7 linked regions of the Homo sapiens genome follow. The gene in region 7 interacts genetically with the main gene of each other region. Each region holds a gene or a part of one and is shown on either strand. Other genes may lie near its edges.

Region 1 (3,906 bases), on a different chromosome or scaffold from region 7:
TGATGTTTTCTAGGGAAGTGTCTTTTCTAGGAACTCTGCCACCCCCTCATCCTATCCTCCAGCCGGATGTTTCTTCTGAGTTCAGACATTTTTCTTTTCCATCTTTCTTTCCCCAGGAATAACAAACGAGGACAGCAAGGCTGGGACAGGAAGTACATTGTCCTGGAGGGATCAAAAGTCCTCATTTATGACAATGAAGCCAGAGAAGGTAAATTAATAATTCAGGGGGAAGGTCATTGCACGTGGCTAACCCAGGTCTCCCCAGTGCTGGCGCGAAGGCTTTGTTTTTTGGACTGCCTTGCAAGCCTTCTACGCTTTTCCATTTTTGAAACTTACAAACCAAATGACTTCTCTAAAGGTTATTGGTGCGATACTCACATCTATAGGTCTCCCCCCTGAAGAACCCGCAGGGCGCTGCCCTGAAGATTCCACCTGCTAATACACCTTCCGAGAACTTCTGCCTCAGTCAACTAACCCATAAATCCGCATCGTCATCAGAAATTTGACTGTGCTACTCATCTGACACACTTTATTTTTTTTTATCTTCCCTCTCTGCCTTCTCTGCACACCTCTGTCCCTTCCTTGTTCTCGTGCGCCTCTCTTTACACACGTACCCTGTCTCTCTCTCCCTTGCTGTCTCTCTCGCTCTCTCTTCTCCCCTTGTTCTTGTTCCTGTTCTTTTGTTTTTCTTTCTGCCCTTCCTCTTTGCACCAAGCTGGACAGAGGCCGGTGGAAGAATTTGAGCTGTGCCTTCCCGACGGGGATGTATCTATTCATGGTGCCGTTGGTGCTTCCGAACTCGCAAATACAGCCAAAGCAGGTGAGGAGGAGCCGGAGGAGCCCCGCCCTGGAGGTGGGCCGGGCTTGGCCAATCAGCAGGGACAGAAGGGGTGGTACAGGGAAGATTGGCTCTGCAAAGGAGGCCCATCTTCCTCCGCTCCCCGCCTTGGCGGTAACTGGGATTTGCGTGGTTTGGTGGGCATCTTTGATCTCTCAGGCCCGTCCCTCCCAGTGGGAACGGGGGAAATCCACACCCAATCCTGTGCTCTCTGAAATCTCCTAGATGTCCCATACATACTGAAGATGGAATCTCACCCGCACACCACCTGCTGGCCCGGGAGAACCCTCTACTTGCTAGCTCCCAGCTTCCCTGACAAACAGCGCTGGGTCACCGCCTTAGAATCAGTTGTCGCAGGTGGGAGAGTTTCTAGGGAAAAAGCAGAAGCTGATGCTGTGAGTATGAAAGCGGGCCCTGGAGGTTGTCTTTGTAAAGGGGGCTGACTTGGTAACTGGTGTTAACGACGAGAATCCCATTGGCCATTTTGATTCCCCTCAGGCTCTCTCTCTGAGGGCTGATGGCTCTAGACTGTGTCATGGCCAGGAGTCTGGTGGTGATGAAGGCACAAGCACCAAGGTAGCTTGTGTGGCATCATGATCCATTTAGAATGTGGGAATCAGGGATGCGGTGGCTCATGCCTGTGGTCCCAGTGACCCAGGAGGCCAAGGCAGGAGGATCACTTGAGCCCAGGAGTTTGAAACCAGACTGGGCAAGATAGCAAGATCCCATCTCTTAAAAAAAGAGAAAGAAAGAAAGTTAGCCAGGTGTGGTGACATGCACCTGTAGTTCCAGCTAGTAGGGAGGCTGAGGCCGGCGGATTGCCCAGGAGTTTGAGGCTGCAGTGAGCTACGATTGTGCCACTGTACTCCAGCCTGGGCAACAGAGCGAGGCATGGACTGTAAAAGCAAAGGAAAAAGAATGGGGGAATCGGCATCAGTAGCCTACTCTGGTGGCATTGTAGACCTTGGTTGTGGTGATGCAGCAGCAAATGTACTTATAAGGAAATCCTCTCTCCTGTTTACTCAAATGAGTTTGTCTGGTTTGAAGGCTTGAGTTAGAAGCACTTTGGCCACGAAGCAGCACAATAGGCTGCCGGCAGCTGTGTCCCCTCCAGGAAGGCTTTTCATAAGCATCTCAGTTGTTTTTGCAGTATTTGCTCTTCCGTAGGCAGGTTTGGAGTCCTACTTATCCTTAAGCTGTTAGAAACGTAGGTGTGCTGTGATTGGCATCACCCCACCTAAAATGTTCCAGGATACAAACAGTGCTCATTGCTCATTGACGTTTGCTCCAGCGAAGACCAAACAGCTCTTTTCAGACTCTTCACTCCTAATAAACACTTTATGTGTTAGCAATTGGCAGATTCTTAACCACAAGCCTCCTGAAAAGGGCTTTACTCAGTGGTTAGACCTGTTTGGATGACTTGTTGGTCGTTTCACACGTGAGCTTTTACTGAAATCCTTGTTAATATGTGTACAATAGGCCCGCGACTGTGTTTCTTACGAGCTTCTGCCTGCCTGGGTTCAGGTAAAGAGATGCAGAGGCGTGCTGGCTCGCTGCTAACACGGCGCCTTTGCACTTCTGCTGCAGCCTTATGGGGGAAGGAGTCTTTCATGTGTCTTATTAACCCTGCGCAGGTGAAATCTCCTTAGCTTCAGCTTATTTCTTATTACAGAATAGCTTTCCATGTCTACTACCCTCCCTTATTTCTGCATCCCAGCCAAATTATAACTCAGATGCTAATTAACAGCTGCCCCAGAGATACCAATAGCACTCGCATTTTGCATTTGGAGCTCAGATCAAAATACGGGCTGAGCTAAGAGCATATGTGCGTTTCTGAGCATTTCCAGGAATAACTTGGCCTTAACCTTCTCTTGGTTTCTCTGGATGGTTTGGTCATAAACAGATCAGCCTCACGATGTCTTCTGTTTTTCTTTTCTTTCACCTATGAAAAGAAACTGCTTGGAAACTCCCTGCTGAAACTGGAAGGTGATGACCGTCTAGACATGAACTGCACGCTGCCCTTCAGTGACCAGGTAATGCTTGCATGGGCACGGCCAGCTGGTGTCTGGTTACAGCCACACCCCATCAAGAAAGAAAGGGCTGTGGAGGCCTTGTTGCTCTTACTAGAGATTGTTCTGGTGACGTGACCGTGCTTATGTTCTGCCTTCGGACTTCTGCCCTTGCAGGTGGTGTTGGTGGGCACCGAGGAAGGGCTCTACGCCCTGAATGTCTTGAAAAACTCCCTAACCCATGTCCCAGGAATTGGAGCAGTCTTCCAAATTTATATTATCAAGGACCTGGAGAAGCTACTCATGATAGCAGGTGTGAGGCCAAGGACATGGTGTTTTTTCTTTACTTTCAAGGGAGCCAATATGTTGAAGCCACGTTTCATGCTCGTAAAACACAAAATAGTAGAGAGGAGCCGTTGTAGCTCTTATCTCTGTGTCCCCATAGATGCCCAAGCCTCAGCTAATGGACCCCCTCTGTCCAGATTCAGTTCCCTTCCAGTATCCAGTTTAGCACAGTCTGACATTCCCAAAGAACATCCCACTGTTAGGCCAAGTGAAGAGTGCTAAGCCTCGAAGACTATCTAAAGCCAAACCCTTTGTCCTGATTGCAACGAAACCACCGTGGGCCCTGACCTTCTGAGAGCTTGCTTGCTCTGTTAACTCTGTGATCTCTCTCAAGTCACCATTTGCTAATATTTTGTCATAATTTTTTTCTCTGTCTTCTTAACACACACACACACACACACACACACACACACACACACACACACACACACTCTCTCTCTCTCTCTCTCTCTCTCTTTCCTGAACCATTTGAGAGTTAGTTGCAGGTATGACGCCAAGTTCTTCAGTATATCAACCTAAGGATTGAAGACATTCTGTCACATAACCAGGGTACAGTTTATTTCTCTCTGTCTGTGTTAGTGACATTATTTTTAAAGGGGAAAAGAGTAATATATCGATTCAGTGTTCAAAACAACAACAGTTAGGTCTTGTTTCAGGCATGGCTGGATCCGGGGACTGACATACTATGGACAAGAACTGGCCTTTCTTAATCTC
Region 2 (4,105 bases), on a different chromosome or scaffold from region 7:
GAGCAGAGATCGCGCCACTGCACTCCAGACTGGGCAACAAGAGTGAAACTCCATCTCAAAAAAAAAAAAAAAAAAAATCAGCTTGGACCAACTCACACATGTTGAACTAGTTTCCTCAACTATAAAACTGTGACGGCCCCAGCTAGGCACAGTGGCTCAACGCCTGTAATCTCAGCACTTTGGGAGGCTGAGGCGGGCGGATCGCGAAGTGAAGATCAAGACCATCCTGGCTAACATGGTGAAACCCCGTCTCTACTAAAAATACAAAAATTAGCCAGGCATGGTGGCAGGCGCCTGTAGTCCCAGCTACTCGGGAGGCTGAGGCACTCTAGCCTGGGCAACAGAGCCGTCTCTTTAAAACAAACAAACAAACAAAAAAAAAACCCTGCAACGGCCCCTGAGTCTGCTGTAAGGACACTCAAATGGCAATTACAGACATTTCTCCAAGAGTTTCAAGGCCTTACCCTCATTCTGACTCTAGGATAATTCTTAGATTGTATCCCACACAACAGTGACTTGTACCTGTGTTCATCTTTATGTATTTACCACCTCATAGTAATTATTTGCATTCATTTTTATCGTACGACACTAAACTATTTGATTCTTCCAGTGGGACATTTAAAGGATGTGAGAAGACCTTGGTCTTCTCAAAAACATCTGTATTTGGTCATGGAATAAATCCAGATGCTACCTAAAGCCAAGCTAGTACCTGAGCTTGTTTCTGAGATCAAAGGGAATTATCAAAATGTGAAACACCTTCTGCCTGACAATTGTTATCTTTTACTTTAATAGGCAATTAATACTTGTCAGCTTGGACATTTTATTTCCAGTATCATGCTAAAAATCTCCTTGTTGTGTGATTCTTTTATTTCTTGACATGCACACATATATGGATCAAAAAGTATGTACAACTAGAAAAACGGACTCCAAGCAAAAATGGAAAACATGTTTCCATGAGCTTAGATTTCCGGGTATATTACTCCTAAACCTAAGGTAGAAGTAATGCATTGTTCACTTACATGTCCACTTTTCTAACCCAAGCTAAGGGCTGGAAAAAGAAAGTCAGAACAGTCCCAAGTAAATATGGGAAACCATAGCAGTGATAAAACCTAAGATTTCTCAGAAATAGTTTTAAGTGGGAAGCCTCTAATCCTACCTGGACAGTGCTTTCCTGTGGGTTTCTCAGCATGAGTCCAAACCTCACAAAGCACCTTCAAAGTCTGGGCTACCCAGTATCACAAGTATAGCAGTAAGTCCAATATCTGGATACAGGGGCCAAGGAAACAATGAAAAAACCAAATCAAGGACCAGATGCTGAGACTCCCCTTGTGTTCCACAGTTGGAAGAATAAGCAGTTGGACCCTAGGTAGTTTTCCGCTTCTTGGCAGATGGCCGCTCAAATACATCTCGTACCCCAGCTGCCTTTTGTTTGAAGAACTTTGTGTTCTGGGCACTCTCTTGGCCCCAAGCTGAGTCAAAGGAGGTGGTATCTTGATCCACAAGGTGAGTGTATTTGGTGCGACCTGAGCGTCCAAAGTTCTTGACCTGAGGGAAGGATGGATGATGAGTTATACCACCAAACAAACCATGCCTCAGCTATCAATACATCACTTTTCTCTGTCATGTTATTAAGGTTCCCCATACCTGCATGACTTTAGGAAGAATGGTTTTATTGAAATGATCCTCCAGGGTAGGAGCGCTGAAATCTCTCTTGTATACTTCTTCATCCTCATCCTGTATAAAAAAAATCTTATCAATCTTGTGGCTTTATTTCCTATATATTCAAACCACAAATTTATTAAACTCTACAATAAGGGATACAGAGAAAGCAGAGGGTATTGAGCCTTTCTTCAAGAGCTTACATCTAGTTGAAGAGATGACATTCTTTTTTTTTTTTCTGAGACGGACTCTCGCTCTGTTGCCCAGGCTGGAGTGCACTGCCGCGATCTTGGCTCACTGCAACCTCCGTCTCCCAGGTTCAAGCAGTTCTCCTGCCTCAGCCTCCCGAGTAGCTGAGGCTACAGGTGCATGCCACCACACTCGGCTAATTTTTTGTATTTTTAATAGAGACGGAGTTTCACCGTGTTAGCCCAGATGGTCTCGATATCCCGACCTTGCGATCTGCCCACCTTGGCCTCCCAAAGTGCTGGGATTACAGGTGTGAACCACTGCGCCCGGCCGAGATGATATTCTTTTTCCTTTGTTGTATTTCTCCTTTTTTTTTTTTTTTTTCCCTGAGACAGCGTCTCATTCTGATGTCCTGATGTCCAGGCTGGAGTGCAGTGGGGTCACTACTGCTCACTGAAGCCTTGACCTCCCAGGATCAAACGATGCTCTCACCTCAGCCTCCTGAGTGGCTGGGACTACAGGTGCATGCAACTATGCCTAATTTTCTCCTTGAGTGTAGACGTGTCTTGAAGGTTGGCTTATTCTCTGCACTCAATGTGTTTGTTTACTCATGTGACTTCAACTCTGCATAGGCCTCTCAAATCTGCAATCCTGGATTTTTTACTGGCTTTCATATATCATAAGTTGGATATTTTATTGGGACTTGAAATGCACGTCTAAAGTGAAAACCATTTATTAATACCTAACCTTTCCATATCAACCTCTTCTCTTTAACTTTTCTGTTAGTAGGACCAGCGTACTCTTCGATTACCTAGATTCAAAACTGAGTAACCTCTGTGTGCATTCAATCAGTTGCCACATCTTACAAACTCTTACCACCTGGGTTATTAGTTTTCCTCTACTATCAGTCTCACATACTGTCATGGCACTGATGTTTCTAGACTGTAACTCATTATAATCTTTGCCTTGCTCAAAAACTTCAATGGTTGTCTATTAAATGAATACAACACCTAGGCTGGGCGCAGTGGCTCACGCCCGTAATCCCAGCACTTTGGGAGGCCAAGGCGGGCGGATCACGAGGTCACGAGTTCAAGACCCACCTGACCAACATGGTGAAACTCTGTCTCTACTAAAAATACAAAAAACACTAGGCCTGGTGGCGCGCACCTGTAATCTCAGCTACACAGGAGGCCAAGGCAGGAGAATCACTTGAACTCAGGAGGTGGAGGTTGCAGTGAGCTGAGATCGCACCACTGCACTCCAGCCTGGGTGACAGAGCGAGATTCCATCTCAAAAATAAATAAATAAATAAATAAATGAATACAACTCCTCTGTGTAGTAATCAAGGCCAAATATTATACAGCCTTAATCCACCTTTTCAGTTCTCTTTGCCGCTTCCCTTCACAGCTGATGCTTTCTGCCTCCACTCCTGCTGGTCTCCACCTGGAATGTCTTCCCAGCACCGAATGTCAAAAAGTCTATACATCTTGGCCGGGCATAGTAGCTCACGCCTGTAATCCCAGCACTTTGGGATACTGAGGTGGGCACATCGCCTAAGGTCAGGAGTTCAAGACCAGCCTGGCCAACATGGAGAAACCCCGTCTCTACTAAAAATACAAAAACTAGTTGGGCGTGGTGGTACACGCCTGTATTCCCAGCTACTTGGGGGACTGGGGCAGGAGAATTGCTTGAACCCGGGAGGCGGAGGTTGCAGTGAGCCAAGATCGCACCACTGCACTCAAGCCTAGGTGACAAAAAAAAAAATTATATATTTAATTTTTTTTTTTTTGATACAGTCTCACTCTGTCGCCCAGGCTAGAGTGCAGTGGCGTGATCTCGGCTCACTGCAAGTTCCGCCTCCCAGGTTCACGCCATTCTCCTGCCTCAGCCTCCCAAGTAGCTGTGACTACAGGCGCCCGCCACCACGCCTAGCTAATTTTTTGTATTTTTAGTAGAGATGGGTTTTCACCATGTTAGCCAGGATGGTCTCAATCTCCTGACCTCATGATCCGCCTGCCTTGGCCTCCCAAAGTGCTGGGATTACAGGCGTGAGCCACCGCGCCCGGCCCAAAATTATACATCTTAAATGCTTAAATGTTACAACCTTTACGTCAACCCTTTCAATCTTCTACCAAATATAACATCTCTCTCGTCAGAACCCCTACAGTACTTTACTTTTACTTATGTTATAGTGATTATGTATTCTCGCTAACAGTGCTAAACAGTGACCTTTGCATAGTATATGCACTAAAGCTTA
Region 3 (3,906 bases), on a different chromosome or scaffold from region 7:
TTTTAATCATGAAGGGATACTGGATTTTGTCAAATACTTTTTCTGTATCTATTGAGATGATCATGTGATTTTTGTTTTTAATTCTGTTTATGTGACGTATCACATTTATTTTTATTTTATTTAGTTATTTTTGAGACAGAGTCTTGCTCTGTCACCCAGTCTGGAGTGCGGTGGCACCATCTCAGCTCATTGCAACCTCTGCCTCCCGGGTTCAAGTGATTCTCCTGCCTCAGCCTCCTGAGTAGCTGGGACTACCTGCCACCACGTCTGGCTAATTTTTGTATTTTTAATAGAAGCGGGGTTTCACCACGTTGGCCAGGCTGGTCTTGAACTCCTGACCTCAAATGATTCACCCACCTCGGCCTCCTGAAGTGCTGGGATTACAGGCAAGAGCCACCACGCCTGGCCAACATTTATTGACTTGTGTATGGTAAACCATCTCTGCATCTCTGGTATGAAACTCACTTGATCATGGTGTATTACCTTTTTGATATGCTTTTGGATTTGGTTAGCTGGCATTTTGTTGAGGATTTTTGCATCTATGTTCATCAGGGATATTGGTCTCTAGTTTTCTTTATTGTTATATTGTTTCCTGGTTTTGGTATTAGAGTGATACTGGCTTCATAGAATGATTTAGGGAGGATTCCCTTTCTCTGTCTTTTGGAATAGTTTCAGTAAGATTGGTAGCAATTCTTCTTTGACTGGTAGAATTCAGCTGTGAATCCATCTGGTCCTGCACTTAAAATTTTTAAATTTTAATTTAATTAATTTATTTTTGTTTTCTTGGACTTTTTTCTTGGCAGTTTTTTTATGACTGTTTCAGTCTTGCTACTTGTTATTAGTCTGTTCAGAGTTTCTCTTTCTTCCTGATTTAATCTAGGAGGGTTGTATATTTCCAGGAATTTATCCATCTCCTCTAGATTTTCTAGTTTGTGCATATAAAGTATTCATAGTACTATTGAATGATCTTTTATATTTTTGTTGTATCGGTTGTAATATCTCCTGTTTTGTTTCTAGTTGAACTTACTTGAATCTTCTTCTTTTCTTGGTTAATCTTGCTAATGGTCTATCAATTGTGTTTATATTTTCAAAGAACCAGCTTTTTTTTTTTTTTTTTTTTTTTTGAGACAGAGTCTCGCTCTGTCACCCAGGCTGGAGTGCAGTGATGCCATCTTGGCTCACTGCAACCTCTGCCTCCTAGGTTCAAGTGATTCTCCTGCCTCAGCCTCCCAAGTAGCTGGGACTACAGGTGGCCCGCCACCACACCCGGCTAATTTTTTTGTATTTTTAGTAGAGATGGGATTTCACCATGTTGGTCAGGCTCAAACTCCTGACCTCAAATGATCTGCCTCCCTTGGCCTTCCAAAGTGCTGGGATTACAGACGTGAGCCACTGCACCACATCCAGAACCAGTGTTTTGTTAATCTTTTGTGGATGTTTGGTATTTTTTGTTTGTTTGTTACAGTTTAGTTCTGCTCTGATGTTTGTTACTTCTTTTCTTCTGCTGGGTTTGGGTTCAGTTTATTCTTGTTTCTCTAGTTCCTTGAAGTGTGACCTTAGATTTTCTGTTTGTGCTCCTTCAGATGTTTTGGTGTGGGTTTTTTTTTTTTTTTTTTGAGATGAGTCTCACTCTGTCACCTGGGCTGGAGTGCAGTGGTACGATCTTGGCTCACTGCAACCTCCGCCTCTTCTGTTCAAGCGATTCTGCTGCCTCAGCCTCCTGAGCAGCTAGGATTACAGGCGCCCGCCACCATGCCTGGCTAATTTTTTGTATTTTTAGTAGAGACAGGATTTCACCATGTTGGCCAGGCTGGTCTCGAACTCCTGACCTTGTGATTTGCCCGCCTTGGCCTCCCAAAGTGCTAGGATTGCAGGCATGAGCCACCACGCCTGGTGATGTAGGTATTTAATGCTATGAACTTTCCTCTTAGCACTGCTTTTGCTGTGTCTCAGAGGTTTTGATAGGTTGTGTCACTGTTATCATTCAGTTCAAAAAATTTTTAAATTTCCATCTTTATTTCATTGTTGACCCAAAGATTATTCAAGAGCAGAAATTTTAATTTCCATGTATTTGTATAGTTTTAATTTTTATTTATTTATTTTTTCTGAGATGGAGTCTTGCTCTGTCACCCAGGCTGGAATGCAATGGTACGATCTCAGCTCATTGCAACCTCTGCCTCCCAGGTTCAAACAATTCTCCTGCCTCAGCCTCCCTAGTAGCTGGGATTACAAGCCCGTGCCACCATGTATTTTTAGTACATGGCTGGCTAATTTTTGTATTTTTAGTAGAGGCATGGTTTTATCATGTTGGCCAGGCTGGTCTTGAACTCCTGACCTCAGGTGATCCACCCACCTCAGCTTCCTAAAGTGTTGGGATTACAGGCATGAGCCACCACGCCTGGTCGTGTATTTGTATAGCTTTGAGGGTTCCTTTTGGAGCTAATTTTCAGTTTTATTCCACTGTGGTATGAGAGGATACTAGATAGAATTTCAATTATCTTAAATTTATTGAGACTAAATATCTGTTAAGTCCATTTGTTCTAGGGTATATTTAACTCTATTCTTTTTTTGTTGACTTTCTCTCTTGATGACCTGTCTAGTGCTGTCAGTGGAGTATTGAAGTCCCCCACTATTGTTGTGTTGCTGTGTATTTCATTTCTTAGGTCTCTAGTAGTAATTGCTTTACAAATTTTGGAGCTCCAGGGTTAGGTGCATATATAGGATTGTGATATTTTCCTGTTGGACGAATCCTTTTTTTCATTATATAATGTCCTTCTCTGTCTTTTTGAACTGTTATTCCTTTAAAGTTTGTTTTGTCTGACATAAGAATAGCTATTCCTGCCCGCTTTTGATTTCCAGTTGTGTAGAATATCTTTTTCTACCCCTTTACCTTAAGTTTATGTGAGTCCTTATGCATTAGGTGAGTCTCTTGAAGGCAGCAGATACTTGGTTTGTGGGTTGTTATCCATTCTGCCATTCTGTGTCTTTTAAAAGGAGCATTTGGGCCATTTCTATTCAATGTTAATACAGTATTGAGATAAGGTACTGTTCTATTCATAATGCTAGTTGTTGCCTAAATACCTTTTTTTAAAAAAATTCTGTTATCGTTTTATAGGCCCTGTGAAATTTATGCTTTAAGGATGTTCTATTTTGGTGTATTTTGAGGTTTTATTTCAAGGTTTAGAACTCCTTTTAGCATTTCTTGTAGTGTGTCTTTCATTTCTTGTAGTGGCCAATTCTCTCAGCATTTGTTTATCTGAGAAAGACTATCTCTCCTTCATTTATGAAGCCTAGTTTTGCTGAATACAAAATTCTTGGCTGACAGTTATTTTGTTTCAGGAAACTAAAGATGGGACCCCAATCCCTTCTGGCTTGTAAGGTTTCTGCTGAGAAATCAGCTGTTAATCTGTTAGGTTTTCCCTTATAGGTTATCTGAGGCTATTGTGTCACAGCTCTTAAGTTTCTGTCCTTCATCTTGACTTTAGATAACCTGATAACTATGTGCCTAGGTAATGATCTTTTTGTGATGAATTTCCTAGGTGTTCTTTGAACTTCTTGTATTTGGATGTCTAGATCTCTAGCAAGGCCAGGGAACTTTTCCTCAATTATTTCCTCAAATAAGTTTTTCAAACTTTTATGTTTCTCTTCTTCCTCAGGAACACCAGTTATTCTTAGGGTTGGCTGTTTAACATAATCCCACATTTCTTGGAGGCTTTGTTCATTTTTAAAATTTTTTTTCTTTGTTTTTGTCTGATTGGGTTAATTTGAAAGCTTTGTCTTCGAGCTCTGAAGTACTTTCTTCTACTTGTTCTAGTCTATTATTAAAATTTTCCAGTGCATTTTGTATTTCTCTAAGTGTGTCTTTCATTTCCAGAATTTGTGATTGTTTTTTCTTTATGATCTCTA
Region 4 (3,906 bases), on a different chromosome or scaffold from region 7:
CAGGCTTTAGTAGAGTGGTTTTTTCCAGTGAGTACTTTTCAGTCAACAGGTTTATTGGGAGGTGGCTAAAATGCACATGGAGGTGAGCCCTTCCCTGCCAGACAAGCAAAGAATCAAGCTGTATATTTAAAACTTGGCTGTTAACCCAAAGGATTTCTACAGGAAGTTTTTTTCTCCTTTGATGTTTGTAGAGGGGTTTTTTTTCCCCTCCCGACAAAATCAATACACAGAAAACCCAAAGCTCTTAATTTGCAAAACTGAATGGATTTGTGAAAATAGATACCTTTTTGGCAGAAATGCAATTTGGCATTAATCCCTTGATCTAAAACTTAGAAGAAACCAGGCTGAATTCAAATTTATTGATGGATCAATTTAAAGAGTTTTAATCTGGGTGTTATGAGTTCCTTGGGCCTATTGTTTGCCTGAACCCTGTGGGGACTGGCTCATCAGCAGAATTATTCATGGAGGAATTTGCTAGGTTTTACCTTGGCTCTCTAGCTTGGGACATTTTGTTTCTTCCTTAAATCCTTATTGCAACCGTCCAGCTACCAGGTAGGTATATTGCCTTGTAAGTGCTGGTACAGTTTGCCTTATTTATATTCCACTGCTTCTCAGGGATTAACATCTGCTCGTGCAGCTGAGATCCTGGCGCGAGATGGTCCCAACGCCCTCACTCCCCCTCCCACTACTCCTGAATGGATCAAGTTTTGTCGGCAGCTCTTTGGGGGGTTCTCAATGTTACTGTGGATTGGAGCGATTCTTTGTTTCTTGGCTTATAGCATCCAAGCTGCTACAGAAGAGGAACCTCAAAACGATAATGTGAGTTCTGTAATTCAGCATATGGATTTGTAGTACACATCAGATATCTTCTCCGTCTTTGTCTCCCACTTCTTCTCAATTACCACTCATTACTTAATGGTTATGAACTCATTACTTAATGGTTATGAACAGCTGTTGCCTTCAAGGCTCATCCATTCTTCCTTCGTTTCCATTTCCTCTCTCTACCACCCACGTTGTAGATGCTCTTACAAGTGGGATGCCCACCTGCATGTGCTGCTGTGAGCAGGCAGCTCTGCTCAGGCCCCGGCCGCCACCCACTGGATGGCAGAGCACAGCGATTCATGTTGGCACATCCACCTGTCCAGAAATGCTTGGTGGCCATTCTTCAAAATCCACAAGTTGGTTGAAAAACAATCTTTGTTTTATAAAGCAGGAGAAACTGATGCATCTAGAACCTTTCCAAACGTCCAGTTAGTGATCAAGTGTTGGTGTGCCTGACTCCATTTCTGACCCTTCCTGTGTGGTCTTTAGAAGGATAAATAAGAAAACATGAGTTCTATATTTCTGAAATCTTGGTTTCTCTATTAAAAATCTGTTTTTTATTCAGTCAAAAAATTAATTGAATGTCCCTAATTATTGTGTAGAGCCACGGGCCCTAACTTGTCTTTTCCCTTCCAGCTGTACCTGGGTGTGGTGCTATCAGCCGTTGTAATCATAACTGGTTGCTTCTCCTACTATCAAGAAGCTAAAAGTTCAAAGATCATGGAATCCTTCAAAAACATGGTCCCTCAGGTACCAGACGCTTTGTCCTTCCCCAGTGGATGACTTGACAGCCCCAAGCATGTCAGCCTGTGAATTAGTGTGAAGTTAAGGTTTTCCAAGTATTACATGACTCATCAGAGAGATGGATGTCTTCTACCCCACCCAAAACCAACCTATTTTCCTTCTATCCAAAAAGTGGTAGCCTTTCTTTTGAATGTAAACTCTGAATACAGGCACACCATGTAACAGCAATATCTCTTAAACTGGCGAGCAAGCTTTTGTAACTTGTGTAAATAAAAAAGTGAATAATATCTTTGTTTTGTATTCAGGTAATTAGGATTATGACTATTTTTATTTTCTTGTTTTGGACACTACCTTCTCTTTGTTGGTATACTAACGGTGTAAATTGTTTCTTTTCCAAAGCAAGCCCTTGTGATTCGAAATGGTGAGAAAATGAGCATAAATGCGGAGGAAGTTGTGGTTGGGGATCTGGTGGAAGTAAAAGGAGGAGACCGAATTCCTGCTGACCTCAGAATCATATCTGCAAATGGCTGCAAGGTAGCTCTTTTATTTTAACAAACCTCATAGCTAGCTCTGCTGTTCGGGCAGCTTGATTTGAGGGGTACAGTAGCCCATGATAAGGCTGGTGTATTCACATGACATTTTTCTTCTTTTCCTCACATATAGGTGGATAACTCCTCGCTCACTGGTGAATCAGAACCCCAGACTAGGTCTCCAGATTTCACAAATGAAAACCCCCTGGAGACGAGGAACATTGCCTTCTTTTCAACCAATTGTGTTGAAGGTAGGCCATTTTTGGGCACTTTGAGCATGGCGTGGTATTTCTCTTGGGCATTAACAAAATCAAAACCATAGGCACAATCTCTTGTTTTATTGGCTCCATTTCTGAGAACTTGTGTCAAGCACAGAGCAGAGGTGTTTTCCTAGCTGGCAGGAAACCTTGTGGCAGTTTCCCTTCCCTCCACCTCCACCCTGCCTCTTCTGTCAACAACACCAGTCTGGCATGGGTGTTGGAGCTGCTGTCCTGCTACTGGAGAGAAGTCCCTTTGCCAAACAGCATGTACAGCCAAAGAGCTGGCCCTTAAAAAGTGCTTTTATCAACTCTTTTTGTTTTTTTAGTCATCCTATGTAATTGTGTAAAATCCGTGGCTTCCTTCAGGTTAGATACAATTAGGTACAGTTCTCCCTCCCCTTCTTTTTAAGGCACCGCACGTGGTATTGTTGTCTACACTGGGGATCGCACTGTGATGGGAAGAATTGCCACACTTGCTTCTGGGCTGGAAGGAGGCCAGACCCCCATTGCTGCAGAAATTGAACATTTTATCCACATCATCACGGGTGTGGCTGTGTTCCTGGGTGTGTCTTTCTTCATCCTTTCTCTCATCCTTGAGTACACCTGGCTTGAGGCTGTCATCTTCCTCATCGGTATCATCGTAGCCAATGTGCCGGAAGGTTTGCTGGCCACTGTCACGGTAAGAGGCAGGTGATGGTCACCCTGACTCAGATCAGCTTGCACGAATGTTACACTCTTCCGCTATCCTATTCTAAGGTATTGCCAACTTATGTTTTATTCTGGATGTTTGATATAGTTCTTCTTGAGAGCCACATCACGTGGTGAATTTTGACAGTGAGAAAACCTCAGCATTTGTTTATACGTAAGATAACCCCAAAGCATACATTTTGCTTTTAAATTATCACGTGGTCCTGAACAGTGCAGTGGAGAAAGGAGAAGAACTTGGGATCAAGTAGGGGGATAGAATATGGTAGAATCCTGTTATTATTTTTCTTAATAGATTGCTTTTCTGGAAGGAAGGGGAAGCCTCATGTATGGGTTCCCCTTATTATTTCTTCAAACTTCAGAAGAAGGTTGGAGAGATTTAATTTTAGACAAATTTCTTCCACATTAGGATATAGCAAGAATCTGTATAGAATTCCAGCCTGGTTGAGTGAAGTAATAATCTTCCTAATATTTTTTAGGTCTGTCTGACACTTACTGCCAAACGCATGGCAAGGAAAAACTGCTTAGTGAAGAACTTAGAAGCTGTGGAGACCTTGGGGTCCACGTCCACCATCTGCTCTGATAAAACTGGAACTCTGACTCAGAACCGGATGACAGTGGCCCACATGTGGTTTGACAATCAAATCCATGAAGCTGATACGACAGAGAATCAGAGTGGTAAGGCCAGGGTTACCACACACCTCAGCCACCTGCTGACTTCGCTTGGTTTTTTTTCTTTTAAGAAATTGCATGAAATTTCTTTTTTTTTTTTAAGCTCATGGCAGCTTTTTCTTTCTTTTTTGTTTTTTTTTTTTTTATCATTTAGTGAAGAGTCAAGGGTATGG
Region 5 (3,906 bases), on a different chromosome or scaffold from region 7:
AGGAGGGAGGGGATGGGTCAGTGCTGCTCCTTATGGGACAAAGAATACCTTCAGTATTGTTCTAAGGATAGACCCAAGCATGAAGCTACAGAGAGTGAAAAAGTCCAAGGTACTGGGGGTGTGTGTTCTGGAGACGAGAAGCCACCAGGGAGAGGAGCGCTGCCTTCCTGTCTCATCTGAAGGAACATCATGCAGAAGAGGGCAGACAAGGGCAGCCTGTGCCTAAGCTCATTTCCAAGAAGGTTTGGGGCTCCCAGCCATTCATTGTAGGTAGTAGAGGGAGCAGAGGCTTGAAAATAATGGCCAGCACTCACCCCTCTTCTCATCTCTTCAATCCGCTGAGTTCATTTCACATCAGCCTGGCCCAGCCTCCCCTGGCCTGTCTGTTTTGTCGAGCTGTCTGTGTGTGTTTCTTTCGGAGACTTCTTCCTTGCAGATAAGAGAGGGCTGAACAAATGCCCCGGCCCTGCCAAGAGCCGGTCAGGAGGTTTATTGTTTGCTGTGCCTGGAACCGTGGGTCTGCGGTGGGACTGCCTGCCTGGTAACTGGTGCCGGATCTGAGGAGGAGAATTCTGGTCATGCTTCGTGCAGGCGTTGGTGAAGCTGCGGTTTTTAAAACCAGGCTTTAAAACCATGTAGGTGCTTTACTGACCGGTCGCGGTGGCTCATTTCTGTAATCCCAGCACTTTGGAAGCCAAGGCGGGTGGATCACTTGATGTCAGGAGTTCGAGACCAGCCTGGCCAACATGGTGAAACTCTGTCTGCACTAAAAATACAAAAATTAGCCGGATGTAGTGGTGGGCATCTATCACTTGAACCCAGGAGGTGGAGGTTGCAGTGAGCCGAGATCGCGCCAGTGCACTCCGGCCTAGATGATAGAGTAAGACTCTGTCTCAAAAAATAATAATAATAAATAAAACCACGTAGGTGCTTTCAGTTCAGCCTAAGGCACTGGCCTACAGGATTTATGAGATTCCCAAAGACACTCATTCTCACAGAGCTCTTAGAAGGTTCCAGAGGGACACAGTTCTCTTCTGTTGGCAGCAGGGAGCAAGCAAGTACTTTTCTTACTGGAGCTACTGGTATGTGGAGCATTGTGTGTAAGCGTCCCTTCCCAGGGTGTCACTTTAGACAGCGAAGGAAACTGTCTTCTCTCTGCAGCCTGGAGAAGCAAGCTGCATGGAGCCAGGAGGAGGAGGAGAGAGGCCTTTCAGTGTATCCTGTGCAAACTTGCAGTCCGGGCAGGACTTTCCTTCTGGCTGGCTCTTCTCTGGCCCTGAGGCCGGGTGCAATTTCTGGTCTCCTTGCTAAACAAACCAGCAGTCACTTGCTCCCGCGTGTCCCTTCTGCCAGGCTCTCAGCTCGGGTCTGTTTCTCTTTCCCTTGAGGCAGCAGAATAGAAAGTCCCATGAACTTGCCCCTTGAGCCCTGACCTGAGATATTAGGTCAGGTTTCCACTTGCTGAAATCCAGAGCGTGGCTTTTAACCGTCTGAGCTTATTGTGAAGATGGCCGGCTGGTTTTCAAAGCCTTCTTTGAAGGCCTTTCTAGCCGATGTTGAAAAAGTAGGCCAATGAAATGGCCCGCAAGCAATAAATCCACAGGCCCAGCGGCATCCCTCGTCACGTTTCATCCCCATGCCTGTGACCCCAGGGACTTTCCACCTCTCCGAGGAAGCACTGAGCCATTTGCTTTGCCTTTCCAGAAAGCCATTGATCTGGTGACGAAAGCCACAGAGGAGGACAAAGCCAAGAACTACGAGGAGGCGCTGCGGCTGTACCAGCATGCGGTGGAGTACTTCCTCCACGCTATCAAGTGTGAGTCACACGAGGGGTCCTCAGGCTGCCGCACTCCAGAGGGGAGCGGAGGAGAGGGGGTGGCGCACGAGCCTCACAGGGGCCCCTCTGTGTTCCCTTTCACAGATGAGGCCCACAGCGACAAGGCCAAGGAGAGCATTCGAGCCAAGTGCGTGCAGTACCTAGACCGGGCCGAGAAGCTGAAGGATTATTTACGAAGCAAAGAGAAACACGGCAAGAAGCCAGTCAAAGAGAACCAGAGTGAGGGCAAGGGGTGAGTGTCTGCAGCGTCCGCCCAGGAACCTGGGCCCTCCTCACGGCTCCCTATCATTCCTGGCGCTCATGCTGCCTTGGACTTCCCTGTGGGAATGGTCCTCATAGTGCAGGGATGACAGTGCCAGCAGCTGCTTTCAGGGAGCATGGCCTGGAGCACTTCCATGTTCACCGTCTCATTGGATCTGACCCACAAGCCATGGGGAGAGGGGGAGCTTGGTGCAGATGGTAGAGCCTCTCAGGACGGGACCCCAGCTCTGTCACCTCCCAGCCTAGTGCCAGGACCCCGTGTGCCTACCATCTCCACATCTTGGAAGTGGGGAGGTCGTGGAACTCACCTCCGAGCGTTGCCACAGGGAGCAGTGAGATGACGTGGGCAGTGCCCTTGGAGCTTGGCACACGAGAGCATGCAATGAGTGCCAGCTGCTGTGACTGTCAAAGAGTCACCTGCCTCCAACAGGTGGGGCGGCCGGCTCGGGTTAGGAGCCCTGCCGAGGTGGCACAGGATGGAACTTGGACCCCCAAAGCAGGGCGGGTGGCCCCGATTCCCCAGCCAGGGTCCTCTCCACAGCCTCTCACCTCAGGTACTGGGTTCGCCCACCACGGTGATCCCAGTCATATGAACACAAATGCTGGTGGTATCTCGGAGGCGTGGGAGGGGAAGTGAGGGGGTCCCCCAGGCAGGAGAGGGGTGGGTGGTGTCAGCTGCCTCACCAGAGGCGAGGCCTCCTCCTGGATGGAGGGTCTGCACCACGTTCCCATCCGCAGAGGGAGAGGTCTGGCGAGGCAGGGGTGGAGGCCAGGGATCTCCAATAAGGATTAAATCAAGTTTTGAGGATGACAGATTCCATCCAGGGAGGAAGTAGCCCTGGGGTGACAGTGGCTGCGTTCTCCCCAGGAGTTCCCTTTCGATTTCGGTTTTGCTTTCTCCTCTGTCCTTCGGCAGTGGCTGCTTTGGAGTCAGGGGCACATGCTGTCCCTGAGTCTCTACAAAAAGCTTCTGGTGCGGGGCATGGTGGCTCACACCTGTAATCCCAGCACTTTGGGAGGCCAACGCGGGCAGATCACTTGAGGTCAGGATTTCAAAACCAGCCTGGCCAACATGGTGAATCCCGTCTCTATTAAAAATACAAAAAAATAGGCCGGGCGCGGTGGCTCACGCCTGTAATCCCAGCACTTTGGGAAGCCGAGGCGGGCGGATCACGAGGTCAGGAGATTGAGACCATCCTGGCTAACACGGTGAAACCCCGTCTCCACTAAAAATACAAAATATTAGCCGGGCGTGGTGGCGGGCACCTGTAGTCCCAGCTACTCAGGAGGCTGAGGCAGGAGAATGGCGTGAACCCGGGAGGCGGAGCTTGCAGTGAGCCGAGATCGAGCCACTACACTCCAGCCTGGGCGACTGAGTGCGACTCTGTCTTAAAAAAAAAATTAGCCAGGCATTGTGGCATGTGCCTGTAATCCCAGCTACTCGGGAGGCTGACGCCAGAGAATTCAGAGAATTACTTGAACCCGGGAGGCGGAGATTGCAGTGAGCTGAGATGGAGATTGTGCCATCGCACTCCAACCTGGGCACCATCTCAAAAAAAAAAAAAAAAAAAAAAGAAGCTTCTGGCAGCTGCATTGTTTGACTGGCTTTTTTTTTTTTTTTTCCCCCAGACAGGGCTTCACTGTCTCCCAGGCTGGAGTGCAGTGGTGCGATCTTGGTTAACTGCAACCTCTGCCTCCCAAGTAGCTGGCACCATAGGTGCGTGCCACCATGCTTGGCTAATTTTGTGTTTTTTGTAGAGACAAGATCTCGCTGTTTCCCAGGCTGGTCTCAAACTCCTGGGCTCAAG
Region 6 (4,675 bases), on a different chromosome or scaffold from region 7:
CATGAAGTTCAATATACACAGAGCTTGGCTCATCACCCTACCCACTTAACTGCCATTTCTGATTTCTCCCTTTACAATCAAGAATCAACACTGCTACCCAAGCTAGTGGCCTATGAAATCAACTTCACTTTCCCTTTTCTCTCAATCTCACATGCAATTGTTTGTCAAGTACTGCTAATTTTGTGTCCTAAGTTTCTGAAATGCATCCCTTTGTCTAGATATCTCATAAACAGCTCAAATTCAAAATATTCAAAGCTTAACTTATTACTTCTCCCTCCTGGTTCTCTTCATGTGTGTTCCAGGAGGATGTTATCACTATCTACCCAGGTGCTAGGTATCTGGGACTTGGGCATCACCCTTGTTTTCTCCTCTTGTGCCTCCCATAACCAGGTAACCACCAATTCCTGATGTTTGGCTTCCTATTCAATCTACTCACCTCTCTCCATTCTCATTGCTATTATCTTTCACTTTCTGTAGTAGTATACGGCCTTCTGTCTTCACTCTCTCTGACCTTTTCCCCACTGTGCAGCCAGATCTGATCGTGTCAGCAACTTCCCATCCCCACCCCCCATTTTTAATCCTTTGATTCCTGATGTTTAACCCCCATGACCCAGACTGCAAAATCTAGTATAGGCATCATAATCCATCCAGAGTAACATAATGTACTCGGCACATAACAGATACTCAATAGGTATTAACCTGTGCTCACCGCCTGATTATTGGTTATTTACAGCAGATAAATCCGTGAGGTGCTCTCCGTGCGCTGTACCTCTGGAGGCACAGGGTAACATACGGCTCATTGTTGTTATGAGCTGGAGGCCTTAAATGAAAGCTATAAGACGTTAACTGCGCATAATAGTACCAATGAATTCCGTAGTCAGTACAGAAAAGGATGCATATCCCAAGATATCTTCATGATGGGGCCTTAAAACAAAAGTCACCCTCATGGCTCTGCACTTTTTTTTTTTTTTTTTAGACAGGCTTTGGCTCTGTCGCCCAGGCTGGAGTGCAGTACTGGCGGGATCTCGGCTCACTGCAACCTCCACCTCCTGGGTTCAAGCGATTCTCCTGCCTCAGCCTCCCGAGTAGCTGGGATTACAGGCGCCCACCACCACGCACGGCTAATTTTTGCTGTTGTCGTATTTTTTGTAAAGATGAGGTTTCACCATGTTTTTAAAAGGACTTGGTCTTGAACTCATAACCAAAAATACATAACCTCGAACTCTTGGGCTCAAGTGATCCTCCCGCCTTGGCCTCCCAAAGTGCTGGGATTACAGGCGCGAGCCACCGAGCGCGGCCCATACGGGAAAACGTCAAAGCCTGACAGGTGTGACAAATAATGGGCCCCTAGGCAGGCTGGGGCTGGCGCGTGCCTGTGCGCGTGCGCGGGGCGCGGGGTTTTTAACACCGCGCAGCCTTCCCGGCGGCCCCCGAGGAAGGCGGGACAGGGCCTATTCCCGCGGTTTGGTCCGGCCATTGGCGGGCGGTTTGAATGACGGAAGTGACGGCGGCTCGGCGATGGCTCTCCCGCAGGCGCAGAAACGGCTGCTGGGCAGCTGATGGGCAGGAGCTTACCAGGCTGGCTTGCTCTGAGCTGCGGTTACTGTGTCCAGGCCCCGGGTTCTCAGGTGAGTCAGGGATGCACTGGCTTCCCAGTCGCCCCGTAGGAGCATGACTCCCCGAGGCCCAAGAGCTGGGATTGTATTCCGGAGGAATGGGATCCCAGGAAGGCGCCTTGTTGCGAACGCAGGTACGGCTCGCGTTTCTCAGGCTCCGCAGGCCGTGGGCCCTGCCCGCGGTCGGGCTGGCGGCTGTAAGGAGTGTCCGGACCAGACCCGGTAACTCAGTGCGAGAGGCTTTGCGCGCTCTCCTGGGGTCGGGTCGCGCGAGCTTCCCACGCAGCCTCCCCTGTCGCGGAGCTTCCGTGTCGGGGGAGGGGCGCTTCCCCCAGATCACCCGCGGACATGGCCTGCCACCTGGTAGCTGTTAAAAGAGCCTTGCCTGGATCGTTTCATGCAAAGAGCACGCTCTCTTTTGGTGTCTGCCACCTTAATCTCACAGTTATTCAATCCTGTCACAAACTCAACTTTTAAAACAATGGTGAACTTTTGAGTCCTTAATACTTAGAGTGTATTTGAAGACTTCACGCTAAGTCACATAGACGTCAGAACAAACCTTTTGGGGTAGATATTATTATTCCCTTTATACAGTTTAAGAAAACGAAACCAAAGTGACTTCAGTGACTTGGCCAGTATCTTCCTGCTAATAAGTGGCAGTGTTGGGTCTTGAACCCAGATCTTCCAAGTTTAGTGTTAATTTTGTGATTACTATGTACCAGGAGCCATTTAATCCTCAGGACGAAATCTTGCAAGATAAGTAGTATAATCTTCAATATTGGATAGTAATAAAATGTAGAATTTAAAAATCCATATTACTAAGAATAAATAATTAATAAACAAGTAAATGGGGCAGCAGGGAAAACTTCCTTACAGCAGGATTCCGATTGATAATTGTAGAAGGAATAATGGAAATAGAAAATACTATTTGGTAAACACCACAGTAGTTGTTTCAGACAACAGTCATCAATGGATACTAACGTCAATGGGCAAAAGTATGATGAAAAGCATATTTCTGTAGCCTCTACTCTGTCTTCATGAGATATTTATAAAGGAAAAGTAGTAACTACAGAGGAGAAACCTGGTGGACATCATCTTAACCAAGTGACCAAAATTCAGCATCATTTACCTCTTGATAACAATGCACTGAAAAGGTGCCTAATCAATTCTGTGGTGTTCTTGCCAAAAATACATAACCTCAGTTTAATCACATAAGATTAGACAAATCTAAATGGAGGGACATTCAACAAAGTACTTGGCCAGTATTTTCAAAAATGACAGGGTCTTGAAAAGACAGACTGAGAAACTGTCCCAGATTAAGGGGGACATGACAACTTTGACATGAGAATGTAACTCACATATCTTAATCTCCTGCATTCTGAAATCTCCATTTGCACTGAGGCCATGCTTCCCATGGGCTGCTCCTAGCCACTGACAGTGGCAGGCCTGTTCCTGAGAATCTCCCCACGGGTTCTTGCTGAACATTTCTTATACTGCATGGCTGTCTAAGAGGGGTCTACCCATTGTTACTTCCCTCCATTCAGTGTTAGACTTACACTGAAGTCTGAGGCGCTTGTAACTTTTATCAGCTCCCTCCCATTTTCCCTCACACACGCATTTCTCCTAATAAAATATTTGCAGGTTTACTCCCATCTTAGCGTCTGCTTTTTAGATGACACACAGTTACACAGCAACAAATGCAATGTGTTATATCCTTGGATTGGCTTCTGGTCCAGAAAATAGACATTAGTGTGATAATTGACAAAAATTGAATACTGCCTGTAGATTAGTAAAAAATATTGTGTCAGTGTTAATATTCAGATTTTGATCATTGTACCATGGTTATGTACAAGACGTTGACATTTGGAGAAGCTGGGGAAAGGGCAAATGGGAATTCTAAGCCTGAAATTTCCAAATAAAAAGTTTAAAAAATTTAAAAATTATACACAAGAAGAAACAGTTATTCTATCGCATTTTAGGAGCTTAAAAATAATAAATGTTTATATGTTTTTCAATAATCCTCTGAGATGAAGTAATGGATACCTAAAATTTGAAATATTAGGATTTTTTTCCTCTTAAAGTATAAGAATAAAACACAAATCTAGGTATACCATTTGAGGAATTTTTACATATGTATACACTTGTCTAAACCATCATACAGATCAAAATATATAAATTTTCAGTACCCCAGCAAGCTTCTTTGTGCCATCTCCGAGTCAGTAACTTCCAGTAAGGTAACTTTATTTTTACCTCTCATGGATTAGTTCTGCTTGTTCTTGAACTTTATATAAATCAATTTTGTTGTACTTTTTTGTGTCTGGCTTTTTAAAAATTCAGCAATATTATGTCTATGAGATTCATCAGGAATTAGTCTTAATTATTTAAATATGAGGGAATTTCTTAGACCTTCAGACAAAATAATAAAGATACATTGTGAAGATTAATCTTGTTCTTTTTTCTTCTTTGTTAAATTTTCTGTTTTTTAAATTCTCACTCTCAAAAAACAACAGCTTAAATAAAATTTTCGCCACTCCACATATTTTTGTGTGTTGGAAAGTTAGGAGCCATTTGGAATAAGGAAACCAGATTCTTCCCTTGGCTCCGCCACTAGATGTTGTCACTCAGGGAAAGTCCTTTAACCCAAGAGGCCTTGTTTCTTCATGTATAGCATGAAAAATATAATCAGTACTTTAGTTACCATTACCAAAGCCGTGTGAATATTAGATGAGTAGGATGCATTAAAAGATTTTTTTAATGCCAGCAGTTAGTCCTTTTTGGTGTTAGAGTCTTATTGAAGGTTGTGATGATTGTGTATAGCTCTGTAGCACTTCACATAAATTAACTCATTGAGTCATTCATTCAGTCAACACACTTACTGAAGTAACTACCTATGGGCGAGACACTGTTTTCAGGCTATGGACATAAAATGGTGAATAAGTCCATTCTGCCCTGATGAGCTTACATTCTGATGGAGAAGTCACTGGAAAGGTATTAGTCCCTGTTAGGTAATCCCACAGTCTCCTAGCCCCTATTCTGTTTACACCTGGTTGAAAACATTG
Region 7 (3,293 bases):
GGCTGAACCACCGGCAGACGCACCTCCGGGCCACACCCACCAAGGCTCCTGCCCCTGTTGTCCTGGGGTCCCCAGTTGTTCTAGGGCCTCCTGTGGGCCAGGCCCGAGTGGCTGTGGAGCACTCATACCGAAAGGCAGAAGAGGGTGGGGAAGGGGCGACTGTCCCATCTGCCGCTGCCACCACCACTGAGGTAGTGACTGAGGTGGAGCTGCTCCTCTACAAGTGCTCTGAGTGCTCCCAGCTCTTCCAGCTGCCGGCGGATTTCCTGGAGCACCAGGCCACTCACTTCCCTGCTCCTGTACCCGAGTCTCAGGAGCCTGCCTTACAGCAGGAGGTGCAGGCCTCGTCACCTGCAGAGGTGCCTGTGTCTCAGCCTGACCCCTTGCCAGCTTCTGACCACAGTTACGAGCTGCGCAATGGTGAAGCCATTGGGCGGGATCGCCGGGGGCGCAGGGCCCGGAGGAACAACAGTGGAGAAGCAGGCGGGGCAGCCACACAGGAGCTCTTCTGCTCAGCCTGTGACCAGCTCTTTCTCTCACCCCACCAGCTACAGCAGCACCTGCGGAGTCACCGGGAGGGCGTCTTTAAGTGCCCCCTGTGCAGTCGTGTCTTCCCTAGCCCTTCCAGTCTGGACCAGCACCTTGGAGACCATAGCAGCGAGTCACACTTCCTGTGTGTAGACTGTGGCCTGGCCTTCGGCACAGAGGCCCTCCTCCTGGCCCACCGGCGAGCCCACACCCCGAATCCTCTGCATTCATGTCCATGTGGGAAGACCTTTGTCAACCTTACCAAGTTCCTTTATCACCGGCGTACTCATGGGGTAGGGGGTGTCCCTCTGCCCACAACACCAGTCCCACCAGAGGAACCTGTCATTGGTTTCCCTGAGCCAGCCCCAGCAGAGACTGGAGAGCCAGAGGCCCCTGAGCCCCCTGTGTCTGAGGAGACCTCAGCAGGGCCCGCTGCCCCAGGCACCTACCGCTGCCTCCTGTGCAGCCGTGAATTTGGAAAGGCCTTGCAGCTGACCCGGCACCAACGTTTTGTGCATCGGCTGGAGCGGCGCCATAAATGCAGCATTTGTGGCAAGATGTTCAAGAAGAAGTCTCACGTGCGTAACCACCTGCGCACACACACAGGGGAGCGGCCCTTCCCCTGCCCTGACTGCTCCAAGCCCTTCAACTCACCTGCCAACCTGGCCCGCCACCGGCTCACACACACAGGAGAGCGGCCCTACCGGTGTGGGGACTGTGGCAAGGCTTTCACGCAAAGCTCCACACTGAGGCAGCACCGCTTGGTGCATGCCCAGCACTTCCCCTACCGCTGCCAGGAATGTGGGGTGCGTTTTCACCGTCCTTACCGCCTGCTCATGCACCGCTACCATCACACAGGTGAATACCCCTACAAGTGTCGCGAGTGCCCCCGCTCCTTCTTGCTGCGTCGGCTGCTGGAGGTGCACCAGCTCGTGGTCCATGCCGGGCGCCAGCCCCACCGCTGCCCATCCTGTGGGGCTGCCTTCCCCTCCTCACTGCGGCTCCGGGAGCACCGCTGTGCAGCCGCTGCTGCCCAGGCCCCACGGCGCTTTGAGTGTGGCACCTGTGGCAAGAAAGTGGGCTCAGCTGCTCGACTGCAGGCACACGAGGCGGCCCATGCAGCTGCTGGGCCTGGAGAGGTCCTGGCTAAGGAGCCCCCTGCCCCTCGAGCCCCACGGGCCACTCGTGCACCAGTTGCCTCTCCAGCAGCCCTTGGAAGCACTGCTACAGCATCCCCTGCGGCCCCTGCCCGCCGCCGGGGTCTAGAGTGCAGCGAGTGCAAGAAGCTGTTCAGCACAGAGACGTCACTGCAGGTGCACCGGCGCATCCACACAGGTGAGCGGCCATACCCATGTCCAGACTGTGGCAAAGCGTTCCGTCAGAGTACCCACCTGAAAGACCACCGGCGCCTGCACACAGGTGAGCGGCCCTTTGCCTGTGAAGTGTGTGGCAAGGCCTTTGCCATCTCCATGCGCCTGGCAGAACATCGCCGCATCCACACAGGCGAACGACCCTACTCCTGCCCTGACTGTGGCAAGAGCTACCGCTCCTTCTCCAACCTCTGGAAGCACCGCAAGACCCATCAGCAGCAGCATCAGGCAGCTGTGCGGCAGCAGCTGGCAGAGGCGGAGGCTGCCGTTGGCCTGGCCGTCATGGAGACTGCTGTGGAGGCGCTACCCCTGGTGGAAGCCATTGAGATCTACCCTCTGGCCGAGGCTGAGGGGGTCCAGATCAGTGGCTGACTCTGCCCGACTTCCTCTTTGGCACCTCCATTCCCTGTTGCTGAAGGCCCTCCAGCATCCCCTTAAGCATCTGTACATACTGTGTCCCTTCCTCTTCCCATCCCCACCACCTTGTAAGTTCTAAATTGGATTTATTCTCTCGTGAGGGGGGTGCTCTGGGGTCCTTGACACACATAAAGGTGCCCCCCCACCTTCCACCTCTTAGCACTGGTGACCCCAAAAATGAAACCATCAATAAAGACTGAGTTGCCAGCAGTGTGTAGAGTGGAATTTGGGAGTCATGGGTCTTACCTCTCGTGGCTGCATCACCAACACCCAGAAGTGGGCCTGGCAGGTATTAGGGGTAGTAGGAGCTCAGTAAACATTTGCTGGGCTGAAGAGAATGACCTGGTGTTCATGGGCATGGCTCTCATAGCAGGGCCTTCACTTCACTGCTAGATGGAGGTAGCATGGCTCTCTTGCCACTAGAGGTCCCATGGCTCTGTGGAAAAGCTCAAGAGTGTTTGTACTGGTGGCAGGAACTTTCAGAGAAATCAGATTTTTACACTCCTGTCCCTGACTCCTGGCCTGATGTGGACCTTGTCTCCCAAGGCCATCTGATTTTCTCATTGATCCCCAAGAGCAAATGCAGGTAGGCATGATCTCTAGAGCTGTGGAATTAAAGGAGATTCTGAATAATATGTGTCTGGATGTAGGAAGATTCATGAGAGGTGGTGACTTGAATTCCCCTGGAGTTGGACTTTGGCTCAGCCAACAGATTTTTATTGTGAGTGATGGATTGTTGGGATGGCTGGCTAATGTTTGAACATCTAGTCAGTCTCAAGTACTATATAACTGAATAATATTCACACTGATTACGTGAGAACATTTTGCAGGGAAGGAATCTCCAGTCAAAAGCATTGAGATGACTTGCCCAAGGTCACATTCAATCCAGGCAGGGCAGAGCTTGAATTTAAGCCTGATTTCATTTCATTTGGTTTAATCACCGATATGCTTTTCTCTCTACTCTGTTGCCTTCTGCAT

Evidence for each region.
Region 1: changes in ZNF574 (region 7) and CIT together harm fitness more than expected from each alone (negative genetic interaction), as found in Homo sapiens cells (one large-scale study listed by BioGRID).
Region 2: changes in ZNF574 (region 7) and MFAP1 together harm fitness more than expected from each alone (negative genetic interaction), as found in Homo sapiens cells (one large-scale study listed by BioGRID).
Region 3: changes in ZNF574 (region 7) and RNGTT together harm fitness more than expected from each alone (negative genetic interaction), as found in Homo sapiens cells (one large-scale study listed by BioGRID).
Region 4: changes in ZNF574 (region 7) and ATP1A1 together harm fitness more than expected from each alone (negative genetic interaction), as found in Homo sapiens cells (one large-scale study listed by BioGRID).
Region 5: changes in ZNF574 (region 7) and VPS4A together harm fitness more than expected from each alone (negative genetic interaction), as found in Homo sapiens cells (one large-scale study listed by BioGRID).
Region 6: changes in ZNF574 (region 7) and CEP295 together harm fitness more than expected from each alone (negative genetic interaction), as found in Homo sapiens cells (one large-scale study listed by BioGRID).

Annotation. Positions count from the first base shown.
Region 1 is NC_000012.12:119,709,505-119,713,410, reverse strand, and holds part of CIT (citron Rho-interacting kinase), read left to right. Parts: intron 1-116; coding exon 117-208; intron 209-715; coding exon 716-820; intron 821-1,063; coding exon 1,064-1,233; intron 1,234-2,317; coding exon of another isoform or gene 2,318-2,362; intron 2,363-2,790; coding exon 2,791-2,871; intron 2,872-3,024; coding exon 3,025-3,160; intron 3,161-3,906. UniProt on the Homo sapiens protein: Plays a role in cytokinesis. Required for KIF14 localization to the central spindle and midbody. Putative RHO/RAC effector that binds to the GTP-bound forms of RHO and RAC1. It probably binds p21 with a tighter specificity in vivo.
Region 2 is NC_000015.10:43,803,732-43,807,836, forward strand, and holds the end of MFAP1 (microfibrillar-associated protein 1), read right to left. Parts: intron 1,735-4,105; coding exon 1,645-1,734; intron 1,546-1,644; coding exon 1,363-1,545; 3' UTR 761-1,362; downstream 1-760. UniProt on the Homo sapiens protein: Involved in pre-mRNA splicing as a component of the spliceosome.
Region 3 is NC_000006.12:88,953,259-88,957,164, reverse strand, and holds part of RNGTT (mRNA-capping enzyme), read left to right. Parts: intron 1-3,906.
Region 4 is NC_000001.11:116,386,673-116,390,578, forward strand, and holds part of ATP1A1 (sodium/potassium-transporting ATPase subunit alpha-1), read left to right. Parts: intron 1-615; coding exon 616-819; intron 820-1,458; coding exon 1,459-1,572; intron 1,573-1,965; coding exon 1,966-2,100; intron 2,101-2,229; coding exon 2,230-2,347; intron 2,348-2,766; coding exon 2,767-3,035; intron 3,036-3,540; coding exon 3,541-3,739; intron 3,740-3,906. UniProt on the Homo sapiens protein: This is the catalytic component of the active enzyme, which catalyzes the hydrolysis of ATP coupled with the exchange of sodium and potassium ions across the plasma membrane.
Region 5 is NC_000016.10:69,314,304-69,318,209, forward strand, and holds part of VPS4A (vacuolar protein sorting-associated protein 4A), read left to right. Parts: intron 1-1,704; coding exon 1,705-1,816; intron 1,817-1,921; coding exon 1,922-2,069; intron 2,070-3,906. UniProt on the Homo sapiens protein: Involved in late steps of the endosomal multivesicular bodies (MVB) pathway. Recognizes membrane-associated ESCRT-III assemblies and catalyzes their disassembly, possibly in combination with membrane fission.
Region 6 is NC_000011.10:93,660,147-93,664,821, forward strand, and holds the start of CEP295 (centrosomal protein of 295 kDa), read left to right. Parts: upstream 1-1,535; 5' UTR 1,536-1,628; intron 1,629-4,675. UniProt on the Homo sapiens protein: Centriole-enriched microtubule-binding protein involved in centriole biogenesis.
Region 7 is NC_000019.10:42,079,028-42,082,320, forward strand, and holds the end of ZNF574 (zinc finger protein 574), read left to right. Parts: coding exon 1-2,270; 3' UTR 2,271-2,525; downstream 2,526-3,293. UniProt on the Homo sapiens protein: May be involved in transcriptional regulation.